Regions from separate parts of the Homo sapiens genome. Here region 2 is linked to region 1. The links come from fine-mapping of genetic effects on gene expression. A gene starts in region 1. The other region holds a variant in brackets. All regions are shown on one strand. Distances are from middle to middle.

Region 1 (4,381 bases):
CCTTGGCTGGTGTGCCCCATGCTTGTTGGCACCACCAGCCAGGCCTGGGCGGGAAAAGCCCTGCATGACTCATGGGCCTGACATAGAGGGGCATGGCATGGCATTGTTCTTCCTTGCCTCCAAGCCTCTCTCCCACTGCCCTCACCACCTCTACCTACCCTGCCACCACCACCCTGGGAACTTGGGTGCCAGCAAACCAAAGAGGTGAAGCTTCCAGGCCTTTGACCCCACCAGGAACGGCTACCCTCTCGCCCACTCAACAGGTTGATTGAACACCTACTATGTGCTAGGTAGGCCTTGTGCTAGGAGATGCATCAGTGCATAAAAATCCCTGCTTTCATTGGCAGGGAACAGACATAAACAAACAAGATCATGCCAGTCTTGATTATACCAAAAAGATGAAATGGGGCATTTTAATAAAGTAACTTGCGGAATAGATAAGGTGGTTGGGGAAGACCTCCTGGAGCTGAGACCTCGATGATGAGAAGGAGCTGGGGAAAGAGGCTTCTAGAAGGAGGAAAGGGCTAGTGCAAATGCTCTGAGGTTGTAATCAGCTTAGTATTTGGGGATGAGCCAAGAGGCCAGGGAAGGTGGAGGCTGGGGGTGGGTGAAGGGAATGGGGGTGATGAGGCTGCAGAGGTGCAAAGGGTTCTTCCTTCCCAGCCCCCAGCATGGTAGGCTGCGCTGAGGACTGAGGCCCGGGCTTGGCTTCCCTCCTGCTTATGATGGGAAGGTGGGGGAGCAGGGGAGTGGGGAGTGATGTGATCTGATTTATGGTTTGGAAGGATTGCTTTGGCTGCGGCAAGCAGCCGGGATTGGAGGGGCTCAGGAGGAAGGAGGGGGAGGGCGAGACTGCAGTGGTCCAGGCTGAAATGAGGTGGCTTGCTGAATGCTCAGAGCTCCTTGAGCACACAACCTAGCGTCTGTCGATTTCACCTCCTGGAGAAACCTTCCCTGACTGCTCCGCCAGACTCCTCACCCTCTCCCATCTCCAGCCCCCTCATCCCCGGAGCTATCTGGCTGCTGGTCTGCAAGCAGCTGGAGTCCCCAGCATCACCCAGCCCACAGCCTGGCCTGCAGGAGGCTTCTAGTAAAGTGGCCAATTAATCCCCGAGCCCCGTCTTCCAGGGTCATGCACACAGTCACACGCGTGCTCTTCACATGTGTCACCCTGCCCCCACACACACTCACTTGGATCTCCAGACAAGGGCTTGGAGGGTAGGATGGGCAATCTAGGGGGCAGGAGGGGCCCTGGAGTCTCCTCCATTGAGTGTGCAGGCGATGGTGGCCACAGGGTAATAACAACCTCAGCGAGACCCTGAGGTCTGCCCCTCCTTAGGAATGGCCAGGCAGGGAAGAAGGGAGCAGTGCTCGGTCCCAGCATCCCACCACTGCCGAGATGGTTCTGAGCGGGTTCCTGGGCTGAGGCCGGGGCCTGTGTTTTCCAAGATTCCTTGGAGAGCCAGCTCCATCCTCTTCCTGATTATCTGATCTTTGGGCTACAGCAGAAGGAAAGAGCAGGGCGGAAGCGAGCTCTGGAAAGTGGAAAGAGGAGGGTGTGCGAGGAGACCCAAGGCGGGATCTAGGCTTTGGAACGTTGGAGGTTTCCGGCCACAGAGGCAGGGCCTCCGGGGAGCCAAGAGGGGCGGGGAGAGACACACACAGAGAAGCAGAGGAGACCAACGGACCGGACAGAGACGAGGAGAGGAACAGGAAGAGAGAAGCTGGGAGAATCGGGAACCTGGGGGCTAGTGACCTGCACACAGGGCAGGGGCACTCGGCAGTTCCCAGAGGCCACCCCTCCCACCCCAGACATCCAGACATCTGGAACTTTGGGTGCCAAGAGTCCAGCTTAATGCAGGCAGCCTGGCTTTTGGGGGCTTTGGTGGTCCCCCAGCTCTTGGGCTTTGGCCATGGGGCTCGGGGAGCAGAGAGGGAGTGGGAGGGAGGCTGGGGAGGTGCCCAGGAGGAGGAGCGGGAGAGGGAGGCCCTGATGCTGAAGGTGAGCTCTGGAGTGTCAGGGAGCTATGGGTGGTGAACTGTGGGTCTGGGAGGGGGTATTGCAAGGTTAGGGAAATGGACAATGAGGAGCGATTGGGATAGTCTCAGAGGAGTGGGAGGGTGATGGGCTCAGAGACAGGACTCAGGCAGCAGAGAATGAGTTATGAGTTGGAAAGGGGTGAATGGGGCATCTTGGTGGCAGGCTGGGGCTCACCACCCCTCCCCTGCCCCAGCATCTGCAGGAAGCCCTAGGACTGCCTGCTGGGAGGGGGGATGAGAATCCTGCCGGAACTGTTGAGGGAAAAGAGGACTGGGAGATGGAGGAGGACCAGGGGGAGGAAGAGGAGGAGGAAGCAACGCCAACCCCATCCTCCGGCCCCAGCCCCTCTCCCACCCCTGAGGACATCGTCACTTACATCCGTGAGTAACCAGAAGCCCTCACCCCCAAACTCCTAGGCCGCCGCGGTCACTTTCGCAAAAATGAAGGGTCGGTTCACTGCCAAGTGGCCTTTCAGTTGTCCATTGCCCAGCCCAGAGCCCCCACACCCCTAGGAGCCCCAGGTCCACGGCCATGCCTCCTAAAGGCCTGGGCCACTCGACCCTACCTTCCAGGAGTCCGGGGTGCCCCCCCCACCGCCACCCCGCCCTCAGGAGCCCTAGATCCCAGTTCTCCAGGTCCTCAGGCCCCCCGCTGCATCTCCAGGCTCCCCCTCCAGCATGATCCCTGTCTGTCCGCAGTGGGCCGCCTGGCCGGCCTGGACGCAGGCCTGCACCAGCTGCACGTCCGTCTGCACGCGTTGGACACCCGCGTGGTCGAGCTGACCCAGGGGCTGCGGCAGCTGCGGAACGCGGCAGGCGACACCCGCGATGCCGTGCAAGCCCTGCAGGAGGCGCAGGGTCGCGCCGAGCGCGAGCACGGCCGCTTGGAGGGTGAGTCCGCGGCGCGCGGGGTGGAAAAAAATGAGACTATCTGGGCCAGGAATGGGACTGGTTGAGAAGGTGACCCTAGGTGTCCGGGGCGGGAGAGTTCGGGAGAGCTGCTGTGTGCTAGCGGACGGGGTTAGAGAGCTGGGAGGCTGAATGCAGGGAGCGGGTGGGCACTCCAGACCCGCGCGGACCCGACTGGGGCAGCACCACGCCCCCTACAGTCCAGCTCCCACCGCCTGGCCCCGCCCCTGGCGGACCAGACTCTCCACCTCCTGGCTCCCGCGGTTCTGACCACGCCTCCTCCCAGCCCTCCCCATGAGTTCCTGGCCCCGCCTCCCTCCACCCCCGGATGTTTTGTCCTCGCCCCCTTCCAGACTCTGAATGCATGACCCCGCCTCCTTCTCTACCCGGCCCCGCCCACAGGCTGCCTGAAGGGGCTGCGCCTGGGCCACAAGTGCTTCCTGCTCTCGCGCGACTTCGAAGCTCAGGCGGCGGCGCAGGCGCGGTGCACGGCGCGGGGCGGGAGCCTGGCGCAGCCGGCAGACCGCCAGCAGATGGAGGCGCTCACTCGGTACCTGCGCGCGGCGCTCGCTCCCTACAACTGGCCCGTGTGGCTGGGCGTGCACGATCGGCGCGCCGAGGGCCTCTACCTCTTCGAAAACGGCCAGCGCGTGTCCTTCTTCGCCTGGCATCGCTCACCCCGCCCCGAGCTCGGCGCCCAGCCCAGCGCCTCGCCGCATCCGCTCAGCCCGGACCAGCCCAACGGTGGCACGCTCGAGAACTGCGTGGCGCAGGCCTCTGACGACGGCTCCTGGTGGGACCACGACTGCCAGCGGCGTCTCTACTACGTCTGCGAGTTCCCCTTCTAGCGGGGCCGGTACCCCGCCTCCCTGCCCATCCCACCACCCGGCCTTTCCCTGCGCCGTGCCCACCCTCCTCCGGAATCTCCCTTCCCTTCCTGGCCACGAATGGCAGCGTCCTCCCCGACCCCCAGTCTGGGCGCTTCTGGGAGGGCTCTTGCGGTGCCGGCACTCCTCCTTGTTAGTGTCTTTCCTTGAAGGGGCGGGCACCAGGCTAGGTCCGGTGCCAATAAATCCTTGTGGAATCTGACTTGAGGGGCAGTGAAGGCAGTCTTGGACTTTATCTCCTGCAGGGGAAGCCGGGAAGGGCCAGACCCTGGTCTTTGGGCGCGTGTCCTGGCCTTTGGATGCCTGTTCTGCTTTTTACAGATGTCATTTGAGCCCCAGATGGAGTGATGGAGAAACACAGGTGCATATGTACACACGGTCATCTGTTCTGTGCACAGATGGCCGGAGTACACGCGTACAAACGCTGTAGACACCTTCACCTCCATCGTGCCCTCTCTCTCGGCCTTTGGGACCCAGGGCCTGCCAGTTGTCCCAGGCCTTGGTCTTGGTCCTGGTCAAAGAGATTTGGGAAACGTGAAGGGGCT
Region 2 (4,381 bases), 28 kb after region 1:
GGAGGTTGCAGTGAGCCAAGATCGCACCATTGTGCTCCAGCCTGGGCGAGAGAGCGAGACTCCAACTCAAAAAATAAAATAAAATAAAATAAGCATTGGATTGCATTTTTTAGGCTGTGTCTTTGTGATACCTTACCCTGTTTTAACCGGAGTGACTGTCTCCTAGCAGAGAGAGCTGGACAGACTCCATTTTGGTTTCTTCACTTGGGGCCCCCCGTATCCCCCTTAAGGGAATAACTAGTGCAAGCTGACACCAAGCACATCCAGGAATGCACCTGCTGATAAGATATTGAGGCAGCCTGTATTAGCAGCTCCTGCTCGGTGGAAGGTACCTAAAAGCCCCTGCATTTATCTCTTAGTGATAGTTTAAGCCCCTGCACCTGGAACTGTTTATTTTTTGTAACTGCTTCCATAACCAATTAATTTTTTAACTTTTTGCCTGTTCTGCTTCTGTAAAACTACTTCAGTTAAACTCCCCCTCCTCTATTTAGACCATAGTATAAAAGAGAATCTAGCCCCTTCTTCGAGATGGAGAGAATTCTAAGCGCTAGCTGTCTCTCAGTCGCTGGCTAATAAAGGACTCCATAATTTGTCTCAAAGTGTGGCATTTCTCTCTAACTCGCTTGGTTACAACATCTTGTCTTTCTGGTGACACCTGTTGACATGATGTGCCTTAGAGTCAGTGAAATGTTACTGCTGAGGCCGCAGCATTCTCCCGAGGGAATAAAGCCATGTGCAGCATAACGAGGTTTCTGTCAATGACAGACTGCACGTCCGACGGTGGCCCCACCGATTATAATGGAGCTAAGACTGCAATTGCCCGGTGATGTTGTCGCTGTCCTAATGGAGTAGCTCAAGGCGTTACTCTAATGTTTGTGCCGATGCTGGTGTACACAGACCTACTTGACTGCCAGTCATAGAAAAGCATAGCACATATAATTGTGTACAGTACATCATACCTGTCAATGGCAACGGGCAGGACATGGTGGCTCGCACCTGTAATCCCAGCACTTTGGGAGGCTGAAGTAGGGCAATCGCTCGAGGCCAGAAGTTCGAGACCAGCCCATGCAACATAGTGAGACCCTGTCTCTACAAAAAAGAAAAAAAAGTCAATAAACAACTATGTTACTGGTGTATATATTTACTATATATAGGTTTCTTTGTTTGTTTTTTGAGATGGAGTCTCGTTCTGTCACCCAGGCTGGCTCACTGCAACCTCTGCCTCCCCAGTTCAAGTGATTCTCCTGCCTCAGCCTCCTGAGTAGCTGGGATTATAGGCATGCACCACCATGCCCGAATACTTTTTGTATTTTTAGTAGAGATGGGGTTTCACTATGTTGGCCAGGCTGGTCTCGAACTCCTGACCTCAAGTGATCCACCCACTTTGGCCTCCCAAAGTGCTGGGAAACAGGTATGAGCCACCACGGCCGGCCTTTATTCACCGTACTATAGTTTTTATTGTTATTTTAGAGTGTACTCCTTTTACTTATAAAGAAAAGTTAACTGCTTGAGTCTAAGAGTTCGAGACCAGCCTGGGCAATATAGTGAGACTTAGTCTCTGCAAAAAAGAAAAAAATGTAAAAATTAGCCCAGTGTGGTGGTGTGTGCCTTAGTTCCCGCTACTCAGGAGGCTGAGGTGGGAGGATCGTTTGAGCCTGAGAGGCATAAGCTGCAGTGAGCTGAGACTGTGCCACTGCATTCCCGCCTGGGTAACAGAGTGGGACCTTGCCTCAAAAAAAAAAAAAAGGAAAGGGAAAAATTAACTGTCAAAACAGCCTCAGGCAGCTCCTTC[A/G]GAAGGTGTCCAGAAAAAAGCACTGTTATCCTAGGAGACGACAGCTCCAAGGGTGTTATTGCCCCTGAAGATCTTCCAGTGGGATAAGACGTGGAGATGGAAGACAGTGACGTTGATGATCCTGACCCTGCATAGGCCTAGGCTGATGTGTGTGTGTTTGTGTCTTACATTTTTTCTTTTTCTGAGATGGAGTCTTGCTCTGTCACCCAGGCAGGAGTGTAATGGTGTGATCTCGGCTCACTGCAATCTCTGCCTCCTGGGTTGAAGTGATTCTTTTGCCTTAGCCTTCCCAGTAGCTGGAATTACAGCACTTTGGGAGGCCGAGGTGGACGGATCACTGGAGGTCAGGCGTTTTGAGACCAGCCTGGCCAACATGGTGAAAACCCATCTCTACTAAAAATACAAAAATTATCCAGGTGTGGTGGTGCATGCCTGTAATCCCAGCTACTTGGGAGGCTGTGGCAGAAGAATCGCTTGAACCTGGGAGGCGGAGGTTGCAGTGAGTTGAGATTGTGCCATTGCAAATCAGTGTGGGTGACAGAGTGGGACTCCGTCTCAAAAAATAAATAGATGGTCGCATTTGGGCTATGGCCTAGACCCCTGTGCTAGATCATCTGGCACAGGTGTGTAGCAGACTCTCCCACCTAGGTTTGTGTAAGCACACTCTATGATATCTATACAATGATGAAATCACCTAAGGATACATCTCTCAGAATTTATTCCTGATGTTAATCGAAGCAGGACTATAGCAGTATTAATAACGAGACCTAACAATGCTTGAGCACCTACTATGTGCCAAGAAGTTTTTTTTGTTTTGTTCTGTTTTTGTTTTTGATGAATCTCACTCTGTTGCCCAGGCTGGAGTGCAGTAGCTCAATCTCGACCGGCTGCAACCTCCACCTCTGAGGTTCAAGCAATTCGCCTGCCTCAGCCTCCGAAGTAGCTGGGATTACAGGCACCCACCCTGATGTCTGGCTAATTTTTGTATTTTTAGTAGAGACAGGGTTTCGCCATGTTGGCCAGGCTGGTCTTGAACTCCTTGTCTCAGGTAATCCACCCGCCTTGGCCTCCCAAAGTGCTGGGATCACAGGCGTGAGCCACCGAGCCCGGCCGCAAGAAGTTTTAAGTGTTTTGTATCTCTTAACAAATTTCATTAGCACAAAGAGGGCAGAGGAGAATTGGAATGGCCTTGCGGAAAGACCTCCCTGGCACCCGCCTCCTCCTTATGCCCCAAGCCTGCAGCCCCTGGGGCCTATTATTAGGGCCCACATCTGGTGACATTTCCCGGACTGATAGCGATCTCTGAAGCTCTTGCTCAAGGTTCTTTCCTGGACGTTTATCTGCTCCAAAACTCACAGCTAGCTTCCTGCCATCAGCCCCCTACCTTTAACGTGGGCTCAAGGCTGGCGGCCACCTGGGACTGACGACAGAGACAGAAAGAGCCCCCTCACCTTGCCTCACCCTCAGACACAGCACAAGGTGACGGGACCGGGATTCGTTGCGGGGTGTGTCTCAGGGAGCCAGGAGGTAGGAGCTTGGGGATTAGGAGAGTTGAAGGGCACTCTCCAGGGTATACAAAAAGGAGGTAGTGGGCTGGGCACAGTGGCTCACCCCTGTAATCCTAGCACTTAGGGAGGCCGAGGCAGGTGGATCACCTGAGGTCAAGAGTTGGAGACCACCCTGGCCAACATAGTGAATCCCCATCTCTACTAAAAATACAAAAACCAGCCGGGTGTGGTGGCAGCTGCCTGTAATCCCAGCTACTTAGGAGGCTGAGGCAGGAGAATTGCTTGAACCCAGGAGACAGAGGTTGCAGTGAGCTGAGATCGTGCCATTGCACTCCGGCCTAGGCAATAGAGTGAGACTCCATCTCAAAAGAAAAAAAAAAAAAGAGGTGGCAAAAAGGGGCTGAAAGTTCTGGGCCACCTCCTCTGGGTGAGGAATGTTCTCATGCCATATGCGTGAACTGTGCCTGGTCAGAGGTATTTGACTGTCTTCATCACTGCGGTACCCCCAGCGCTTAGGATAGTGTCTGGTGTACAATTTGGGCTCAATGCATAATTTTACACTAAATGAATGAATCCATCCTCAGATGACAAAGGAGAGATTGCCCTCCTTAATGGATCACTCATCGATTATTTACCAAGTGCCTGCTGTGTTCCAGGGGCCAGGAGCAAGCCACACACCAGCCTCGCCTCTAGGGAACTCAGAGATGAATAATGCAGATGGGTGATCACCAAATGATCCAACAAACGCGGTCTAATTGCTGCTGCCTGTAACCAGCTCTTTTTTTGTGGGGGCTCGGGGGGAACGGGGGGACAACAGAGTCTTGCTCTATCACCCAGGCTGGAGTGCAGTGGCATGATCACAGTTCTCTCCAAACTCCGCCTCCCGGGTTCAAGCGATTCTCCTGCCTCAGCCTCCCAAGTAGCTGAGATTACAGGCATGCACCACCACACCCAGCTAATTTTTGTATCTTTAGTAGAGATGGGGGTCTCACCATGTTGGCCAGGCTGGTCTCAAACTCCTGACCTCATGCGATCCTCCCACCTTAGCTTCCCAAAGTACTGGTATTACAGGTGTGAGCCA

What was found.
Region 2: its variant is fine-mapped to the expression of CLEC11A in whole blood (TOPMed, PIP 0.97).

Annotation. Positions count from the first base shown.
Region 1 is chr19:50,721,671-50,726,051 of GRCh38, forward strand. CLEC11A (C-type lectin domain containing 11A) reads left to right here and starts at 1,694. Exons shown (of 4, transcript NM_002975.3): 1 at 1,694-2,002; 2 at 2,235-2,421; 3 at 2,740-2,931; 4 at 3,352-4,038. The coding sequence starts at 1,856. The coding sequence ends at 3,797. RefSeq lists silencers at 3,043-3,162, 3,203-3,262.
Region 2 is chr19:50,749,501-50,753,881 of GRCh38, forward strand. No RefSeq gene overlaps it. Among named protein-coding and RNA genes, the nearest start is that of GPR32, 19 kb to the right of the region's middle. The variant A/G (reference allele first, on the strand shown) is at 1,793.